Regions from separate parts of the Homo sapiens genome. Here region 1 is linked to region 2. Evidence: fine-mapped expression QTL. Tissue or cell type: cerebellum. Region 2 holds a variant in brackets; the other region holds the start of a gene. All regions are shown on one strand. Distances are between the middles of the regions.

Evidence for each region. PIP is the estimated chance that this variant, and not a neighbour inherited with it, causes the effect.
Region 1: it holds the start of SPATA9, and the variant in region 2 is fine-mapped to the expression of SPATA9 in cerebellum (GTEx, PIP 0.95).

The regions. Positions count from the first base shown.
Region 1 is chr5:95,681,476-95,685,475 of GRCh38, reverse strand. SPATA9 (spermatogenesis associated 9) reads left to right here and starts at 2,485. Exons shown (of 5, transcript NM_031952.4): 1 at 2,485-2,682; 2 at 2,860-2,948. The coding sequence starts at 2,622. LOC105379090 (a long non-coding RNA gene) reads right to left here. Exons shown (of 2, transcript XR_948588.3): 2 at 703-881.
Region 2 is chr5:95,818,078-95,823,548 of GRCh38, reverse strand. GLRX (glutaredoxin) reads left to right here and starts at 823. Exons shown (of 3, transcript NM_001118890.2): 1 at 823-1,093. The coding sequence starts at 887. RefSeq lists enhancers at 1-75, 306-395, 2,312-2,451. The variant G/C (reference allele first, on the strand shown) is at 2,935.

The sequences.
Region 1 (4,000 bases), 140 kb after region 2:
CCAAATCCTTGATCTAAGGCCAACAACAATTCTTAAAGAAGTCTCACATGGCAGATAGGTTTTGAGGATTGGTAGGTAATACATGAAGTGAGGAGTATGACTTCATCTCTGTTGAATTTGAAGTAGGTTTGAGGGAAGGATCCAATTAGGAAGGTTGTTAGGGTTCTAGCCAGTTTGGTGCAAATCAAAATGCTGAAGCCCAGGTGAATCGGGCAAGCCCAGCATTGAGTTTTACCCAAGTTTTGCAAAATTTCCAAAACCAAAAGGTCAGTGCATATTTAATGAAACCTGCCACTTATTGGGTATTTAATGTTCATCAAGTATTGTTTCCTTTTTAAAAGGTAAGAGGCTTATAGAACTTATGTAATTTGCCCACGGCAAAGCCTGGTAAGTGATAGAATTGAAACTCAAACCCAGGTCTGACTGACCCCCAGATTTCTATATTTCTATCACTAAGTTTATACTGTCTATATGTGATTATGTAAAATGTTCATTTTCTTCAAAGCTGTGTGCAAAACAAAAGTTCTGTTCTTCTGTATTAAAGCCTTTTAAGTACAGATAAATCTGTACAGCTGTCATAAAAATTATTTGGAGATATTTTTAATTGTTTCCTAGTTTATTTTATAATTATGGGGTACTCTATTATGAACTCTAAAGAATAACATAATGAAGAATTAACAAGAAAAAAACAGACATTGTGGGTTCTTTTGTCTAAGTTTATTATCTGAAATAACATAAGATGCATAAGATTATTGGCATAAGAAGATAATTAAACACAAACCAAAATATTATAAGGTCATAATGTAAGTGCTGCAGGGTGAGATTTTCTTACTCCATCACCGTCTGTCATTTTTCACCACTCTACTTCTGGGGAGAGGGCTCTTAAGTAAGAAAAGACAAAAAGGACGTTGTTAGCAAACACAAAGAGTTGCTTATGCTTTAAGTGCAGTAAACATTAGCCTGAGAAATGCTTTTCCTCTAGATTTGTTAATTTTATAGGATGCCTAGGAGGGAGAGGACTGATGAAAAGAGAAGAAAATTGGGTAAAACCAGTTGGGCAATGACATTGGAATCAGTGGATAAAAAGAACTAGGGGATGGTGGAAGGGAGGAGAATGGAGAACAGGGAGGAAGACCAGAAAGAGAAGGATCTGCCAGGTGTTCATCTGCAGTGGACGCTGATGACCAACTATCTTGCTAGGACAGATAAAGTATTTCATTATCTCATAGACTCCCAGCGTGTGTATTCATCATTGTCTAGTATGATTTTCTTTGTACCGATGGATTGCACTTTCCAAATGTTAAGGGCATAGTTATCTTAACCATGAGAGTCATGAGAGGCAAGCAGGTTCTATTTTGGTTAGGAGAGGTGAATGTGGTATGGCGGAGGGTGTTCTAAGGCAGATTGTGGACTAAGAACACCATGAGAGCTGGGGATTTTCAGGCTTCCCATGCTAGAGGAATCCTGGGATGAAGATTTCTCTTTCCCAAACTGTTCCCATGAAGACACTTTCAGCAGCCGTGGCTTTATGCTTGCTGAAGAAAGTGGTCTAGCTGCAATTAAATATGAGGGCTTCAAATTAGAATGGGATTCAGGTTAACCAACTATTTCATTCACACTAAAATATAACTAGGCTGTCGGCCGGGCGTGGTGGCTCACATCTGTAATCCCAGCACTTTGGGAGGCCGAGGCAGGCGGATCATGAGGTCAGGAGATGGAGACCATCCTAGCTAACACGGTGAAACCCCGTCTCTACTAAAAATGCAAAAAGTTAGCCAGGCGTGGTGGTGGGTGTCTGTAGTCCCAGCTACTCGGGAGGCTGAGACAGGAGAATGGTGTGAACCCGGGAGGCTGAGGTTGCAGTGAGCCAAGATCGCGCCACTGCACTCCAGCCTGGGCAACAGGGCAAGACTCCATCTCAAAAAACAAACAAACAAACAAACTATATATATATAAAACTAGGCAGTCAATCAAGTCTGCATGGTATCAAGTTCTTCCCATATTTGATCGGGGGAACTAATGGTCATCTGACATGTGAGGGTACTAGGAGGGTAAAAGATGAAGAAAAGAGATTGAGATTATAAAGCAGAGAAACCAAAGACTTTACAGTTTTGCCCGAGTTTGACCTAGTGATCCTCATTGGTGAAGCAAAAACAATCTATTCAGAAGTCTTTCTGAATTCACTGCTGGTGTTTCTTTTCTATTTGGCATCATATATAAAGCATTTCTTTTAAAGCACATGCCATTTTTTTTCAAAGGGACCTTTTGTTCTCAGATGATCCATTATTTGTGGTATCACTGCAGAATTTGGGACAAATTTCAACTTATATCATAGAACTCCTTAGTGTACTTTATTATTCAATCCCCTCACTCCTTCCCTTATGCCTCCAAACACACTCCTCTTCCTCTCACTGCCAGAGTGATGTCAGAAGATTCTGTAGCAGGTTCTCGGAAGCCTATTGTACAGTAACAAAGAATTCCAGCAGTGAGCTGTGAGTTCTGTCCTTGCTGGCTTTCCCAAGTGGAAGGCTACCCTCATCTTTCACTAATGGCAGACTAGGACAAGCATTACCCAGGCCTGCAAGCTTGTTAAGGACTAGGAACCCAAGCAAGAACTCACCATGCCAATCAAACCTGTTGGGTGGATATGTGGGCAGGTGTTGAAGAACTTTTCTGGAAGAAGTATACACAATCTTGTTGTAAAGGGCGTATGGGTGTGGGAACAATTGGGAATAAGATCCCCTAGAGTTCCTTTACTTTCCGAGTCATCTAGGAATTTGATCAAGTGTTTCATGTTCTTTTGAAACATTTAGGGGATGTTTTCAAAGTTTTCTTTTTCCTAACCTCTTTTTGTCTTAGTCGAGGGGATCCAGAAAGCAATCATGGACCTTGTAGATGAGTTTAAAGATGAATTTCCCACCATCCTAAGATTATCACAGTCTAATCAGGTAATGTGATTTTATAACCTTTAAAAGGAATAGAAAAAATATATTCTATTTTTAGTATCATACCCATTATTTAATGCTTGATTTTGAGATCAGTGATCAAAACTTTAGAAAACACTAATTTTGCCTCAGAAAAACAAATTTCAAATATTACTCATTAAGAGGGGTCTTTGGGAAGCAGAGAGATTGTGGACCAAGAAGTGAGGTAGATTGAGAATTAAGTTTAAAGACATTAACTATGTCATTAGGGTAAACACCTGGCAGTCTCTCAACACTACAATTGCAATGTAAAATCAGAAAAATACCTAGATACACTTTAGCAAAAATCTATGTCAAATCAGTGCAAAACCTTGAGATAAATTGTAACAATGGAAAGATAAATACAACATGGATGTGTGTTTAATAAGGAAAGAAAACAGTAGTATCAATTTAAATAAGGTATACATGTATATTTTTTAAACCTCTGTTCCAAAAAGGATTTGAAACAGATAAAATATTGGGAGTGAAAGAGGAGGGAGGTATATATTTTGAAGAGACATAAAGTCAGGAAAAAGTAACAACTTGTTTAGGGAACACATGTAACCTAATTTACTCAAAGGCACACAGCTCTTAATGGAAAAATGTGGTTCGGTCATTTTGATCATAGTTGGAATAGAATATGCTGTGAAGGTACATGGTACAGGAACAATCCACTTATCCAGAAGTCAGACTCTTGACAATGTCAAACATGAGGTATATAACCAAAACCTGGCAGTTAACAAAAAGCACTCTGATTAACACAGTAATCACAAAGTATACATATTTCATTCCAAAGGAGGGATATTAGAGCTAACTTTAACCACGCCTGCAGACAACCAGCCATCAGACATTTAGTAAACACCTCACTATTGCTTGGGACTGGAGAGAGGAAATACAGAGATAAACACGACGTGATCCTTTCCGCTAATGAGCTTAATCTAATGGAGATAGAGTTGTAAAGGAGTAATTGCATTAGAATATGGTCAGTGTTACATCTCTGTATGTAATTTAGAGGAGTGAATGACTCTACTGAGGAA
Region 2 (5,471 bases):
TCATTTCATCTGTAGTTTTGTATCAAGGATTGTGTTGGAATTTGCCTCCATATTAAACTGCTGTTCAAGGGTTACCAACTCAAATGGTTATGGGGTGAAGCCGGTGTCTCAGGCATGGGCCTGTCGTTGGGACCTGTGGCAAACCAAAGCCACTACTTGCCCTATACAAAGGGGGCAACAGCTGTCAGCCCCAGCAGCTTCCACTAAAAGGTGCAAGCTCTGTATTGCCCGACCTGACTTTTCAGAGAGAAGTTTTAAGTCCGAATTGTTTTGTGAGACCTCCAGATTTTTAAATACTGAGAATGAATTCCATTAAAAAGATCACAACAACAAACACCCACCATACAGTCCAAGCAAAATGCTGTGAGAGCAACCTTCATGAGGAGTGCAAAGTCACAGTTTCAATTTCACTTCTTCTAAAGAGATTTCCAAGTGTTCTGTTTCTTAAGTGATTCTGTTTGCATTTTAAAATACAACTGTATCTCCTAGAGGGAAAACAAGAATTTGCTCTAAGAAGTCACTGCCTCCTCAGCCCCTTTGTGAGTAAGCACTTTATGCTTCCCCAGAGGTGACTAAACTCTGATCATTGCCAATGGGCAGGCACTCCCCAAATGTCCAAGGACAACAAAGATACCCAGAGTGTCTTTCATAGCTACCAATGATTAAATAGCAAGTATTGCATTCCTGGGCATTGCTAACTAGTGAAGTATACCAGATGGAAATGTCTTCGAAGCTGTCCCTTTAAAACTCGAGCAAGCTACCAGGCAAACTCCGCCTCCAGGGAGGTTCCTTATTAAATAGGAGCCAACTGGCTGGGTCGGGGCTCAATACCCCAAGCAATACCTGCAACTGAGGATTCTTCCCGGGGAGACCGCAGCCCATCGGCATGGCTCAAGAGTTTGTGAACTGCAAAATCCAGCCTGGGAAGGTGGTTGTGTTCATCAAGCCCACCTGCCCGTACTGCAGGAGGGCCCAAGAGATCCTCAGTCAATTGCCCATCAAACAAGGGCTTCTGGAATTTGTCGATATCACAGCCACCAACCACACTAACGAGATTCAAGATTATTTGCAACAGCTCACGGGAGCAAGAACGGTGAGTTTCATTTTAAACGGCTAGGGAAAGGCTCCCGGATTGCCTTTTCTTGTCAGAGCTGTGCCTTTCTTTAGGATAAGGCTGCGGCTCCGTACTTCAAGGCGTCCAGAGGGCTGTGCGGGGCGGGGGGTGTGGGGGAGGGCGCCTTAGAGAGGATCTCGGTCACTTGAATGAGCGGCGGCACTGCAGCCAAAGGTCTTCACGGGGCAGAAGAGGGAGTACAGCTGATGTCTGCTGTGCGGCAGGGTAAGTGGGACCAGCAGCTTGCCGGTGAGTCCCTGGGGAATTATCTAGAGTCTTTGTTTTAAGCACTGCCAGGAAATGACAGTTTTCAGTTGGCAGGGCTGGAGGTGGAAGCTGGGGTGGAGGGCCGGGTGTGATGTGTTTGTTATTTAACATGAGATTCATGTTCTTCATTCTTTTCTCTAGGCTTTCTTTTTCTAATTTGCTCATTCTTCCTTATCTAATTCCTCCCACTGGAAAAATCTAATGTACCGTTATCTGCCCCTTGTTCTAAATTAATTATGGATGTTTCCAGGCCCCACATTGTAGGGAATCATAGCCTGGAGTTCTGGCCTGGCTCTTATAATGGCTGGCTGTGTGATCCTGGGCAAGTCACCACCCCAGTAGTCCTCAAAGATCCCAGCTGCAAGACCAGATTAGGTGACCTCAGAGTCCCATTTGCTACGAATAGACTGTGGGACCCTCTAAAAATTGCTCTCCTCCATCCGAAAGACTTCCCTCTCTTCAGCATCCTTGGCTTTGCGTCCTGGGCTTCAGGAGGGATGCCAGCCACATCACCTGTATCAGTTCTGCTGTGAGGTGGGATGAGAAATGTCCCACCAGCTCAGCTAAGTTCTCTTTTACGATGCACGAATTCTACAGCACAGTGTTAGGCCAAGCACATATCCTATTTCAGTTTTAGTTTGACTTACAAGGTTGTCTCTGGGTTCTGAGTATAAAGCATTGGAGGTTGTTTCTCTCCCCTTCTCTCTAATAAGAAGTCAGCATTTTGGTGCAGAAAGGGGGCTTAGTGTGTTATCCTACTGCTGTGTGCTGAGGTCCTGGAGTATACACAATGACGAGAGAAGCTCTTGCTGCCTAGTGGGACCACCAGCTGCATAGGATGCCCAGGCCCTGAGAGGTGTAAAGGGCAGTGCAAACACTACTACGGGCCCCACTGTGGCTGCCACCCTGAGGACCTTTTAGCCATTGGTTCCCAAACTTTGCTGCACATTAGGATCACCTAGAGAGCTTTTAAAACAATCCTTATGCCCAAATTATGCCCCTCAATAACTAAATCACAATGTCAGAGGTGGGAGCCAAGCATTAGTTTTGTTTGTTCGTTTGTTTTGAGACAGTTTCATTCTTGTCACCCAGGCTGGAGTGCAATGGTGCAATCTTGGCTCACTGCAACCTCTGCCTCCTGGGTTCTCCTCAACCTCCCAAGTAGCTGGGATTACAGGCGCCCACCACCATGCCCAGCTAATTTTTGTATTTTTAGTAGAGACGGGGTTTCACCATGTTGGCCAGGCTGGTGTCGAACTCCTGACCTCAGGCGATCCACCTACCTCGGCCTCCCAAAGTGCTGGGATTAAACGGGTGAGCCACCACACCTGGGATTTTTATTTGGAAAAATCCCTTGGGGATTCCAATGTGCAACACAATTGGGATTATTGTTCTCAGCCCAACAGCATCTATTTTCCAGGAGGTAAAGCAAACCTCTTCATGTGTTCATTTAACAATTGCTTTTTTTTTTTTTTTGAGATGGAATTTCGCTCTTGTCGCCCAGGCTGGAGTGCAGTGGTGTGATTTTGGCTTACTGCAACCTCCACCGCCCA[G/C]GTTCAAGCAATCAAGTAGCTGGAATTACGGGCACCTGCCACCACACCTAGCTAATTTTTGTATTTTTATTAGAGATGGGGTTTCACCATGCTGGCCAACCTGGTCTCGAACTCCTGACCTCAGGTGATCCACCCACCTCAGCCTCCCAAAGTGCAGGTGTGAGCTACCACACCTGGTCAACAATTGCTTTTTCATTTCTTTGTAGAACAACAATATTTCTTGTAGTAATCTTTTAAGGTTTTTTTTTTTTTTTTTTTTTTTAAGAGACAGAGTCTTGCTCTGTCACCCAGGCTAGAGTGCAGTGGTGCAATGATAGCTGACTGCAGCCTCGAACTCCTGGGCTTAAGTGACCCTCCCACCTCAGCCTCCCGTGGCTGGGACTACAGGCATGAGCCATCATACCCAGCTAATTTTTTAAGTTTTTGTACAGATGGGGGTCTTGTTATGTTACCCAGGCTGGTCTTGAACTCCTGGCCTCAAGCTATCCTCCCACCTCAGCTTCCCAGAGTGCTGGGATTACAGATGTGATCCACCTCAACAAGCCTGTTTTTCATTTTTAGAAAAATGTTTTTCACAGATTCTTGAATTCTGAGTGCATTCCTCCTAGGGGAAGAACAAGCCTTTTAAAGCTGCATGTTTGATCCCCAACAGGGAAGTGTTTGTATTCAAAGGGTCTGAAAGCTCCCGAGGGTTTTTTTTTTTTTTTTTTTTTTTTTGAGACGGAGTCTCCCTCTGTGCCCAGGCTGGAGTGCAATGGCGCAATCTCAGCTCACTGCAAGCTCCACCTCCCGGGTTCACGCTATTCTCCTGTCTCAGCCTCTCGAGTAGCTGGGACTACAGGCGTCTGCCACCATGCCTGGCTAATTTTTTGTATGTTTAGTAGAGACGGGTTTTCACTGTGTTAGCCAGGATGGTCTCAATCTCCTGACCTCGTGATCCACCCGCCTCAGCCTCCCAAAGTGCTGGGATTACAGGCGTGAGCCACGGCGCCCGGCCTGATCCTGCAGTCTTAATTATTCTATAAAGTAGCTGTATCTAGTAGGTAATCAGCAGGACATGATTATGGAAAGTTAGTGGCTTCAATCAAGCCATGTACTTGGTAAAACCTGTTTTTGTTTTGCTATAGTCACAGCTCCTAAATTAGTGCCTTCATTTATTTCTCCTCTAATGCACTTTTCTTTACATAGATCTGAGTTTCTGAACTATATCATTTCCCTTCTCTCTGAAGAACTTCTTTGGGCATTTCTTGCAAGGTGATTCCATTGGTAACACATTCCCTCAAGTTTTGTTTACCTTAGAAAGTATTTCTCCTTCGCATTTGAATGATGATTTTACTGGATGCAACAAATATTTTTAAGCACCTACTATGTACCAGACACTTTTATGTACATTGGGGAAAAAATTCTGCCTTTTCTGCCATGAAAAAAACCCTTCTGCCTTTGTTGAACCTATATTCTAGTGGGGGAGACAAACAAATACAGTAATAAAACAGTATGTTGGGAGTTGGTAAGTGGCACGTGCTATGAGGAAAAGTAGGAAAGGTAGGGAGGAAGCATCAGGGTCCAGTTTTAAATGGAGCCATTGGGTCTCACTGAGAAGGGAACATTCGAGCAGATATCTATAGGAGCTGAGGGAGATGGGTGTACACAATTTACAGGTAGAGTGAATGCAAAGGTCCTGGGGTAGACGTTTGCCTGGCAGGTTTGTGGAATAGTAAGGAAGCCAGTATAGTTGCAGCACTGTGAGCCAGTAGGAGAGTTAGTGGAGGTGAGGTCTGAGAGCTAATAGGAGCTTGGAAGAACTGTGACTGGTACTCGGTGTGAGATGAGATGCCCCTGGTGGGTGCTGAGCAGACGAGTCACTTGATCTGACCCCATTTTGAAAGGGCCACTCTGGCAGCTGTGGGGAGAAGAGACAGTAGGGCAAAGGTGAAGGTTGAAGCTGGGAGACATTGGGAGGCTATAGTAGTTATTCAGGTGACAGATGAAGGTGGCTTATACCAGGGAGGTAGCCGAGGAGTGTTGAGAAATTGCTTTTGAGTAGTTGCATTTGTGTAACCCTAGCTAGCGTACAGGAGATGTTGCCTGGCTGAGGCTGGGGAAACCTAGTGCAGGAGAATAAGAACCACAGGATTACCAAACTCGTTTTGGGGTGGCAGTTCTTTCCTCTCCTTGACAGTAGCGGACTCTCAAGTTCCTCTAAAGAGGAGGCTGGGACGGGAAGGGACAGGAGGGGAAGCAGCACAGGGTATTTCCTCTTCTTTGCTCAACTTTATCAACAGTACTTCTTGCTTTGGTTTCACTGCCACAGCACCCCCGTGCCGTCTGTACAGCCTGCCATTCAGCTCCCGTTAGGGGTACCATTCACTGATACGATTTATGGCAGTTTTGCAGTTGTCCAGACTAGAGGATGGGTGTGAGGGTAAAGGAGCCTTTCGCTTCTTTGCCAGACACTGAGCACAAAACTCCACGCTGGGAGCAGCCTGGTCACATTTCAGGGTCATCTCAGGAGGCTGGGGGGCAGCTCCAGGGCTGTG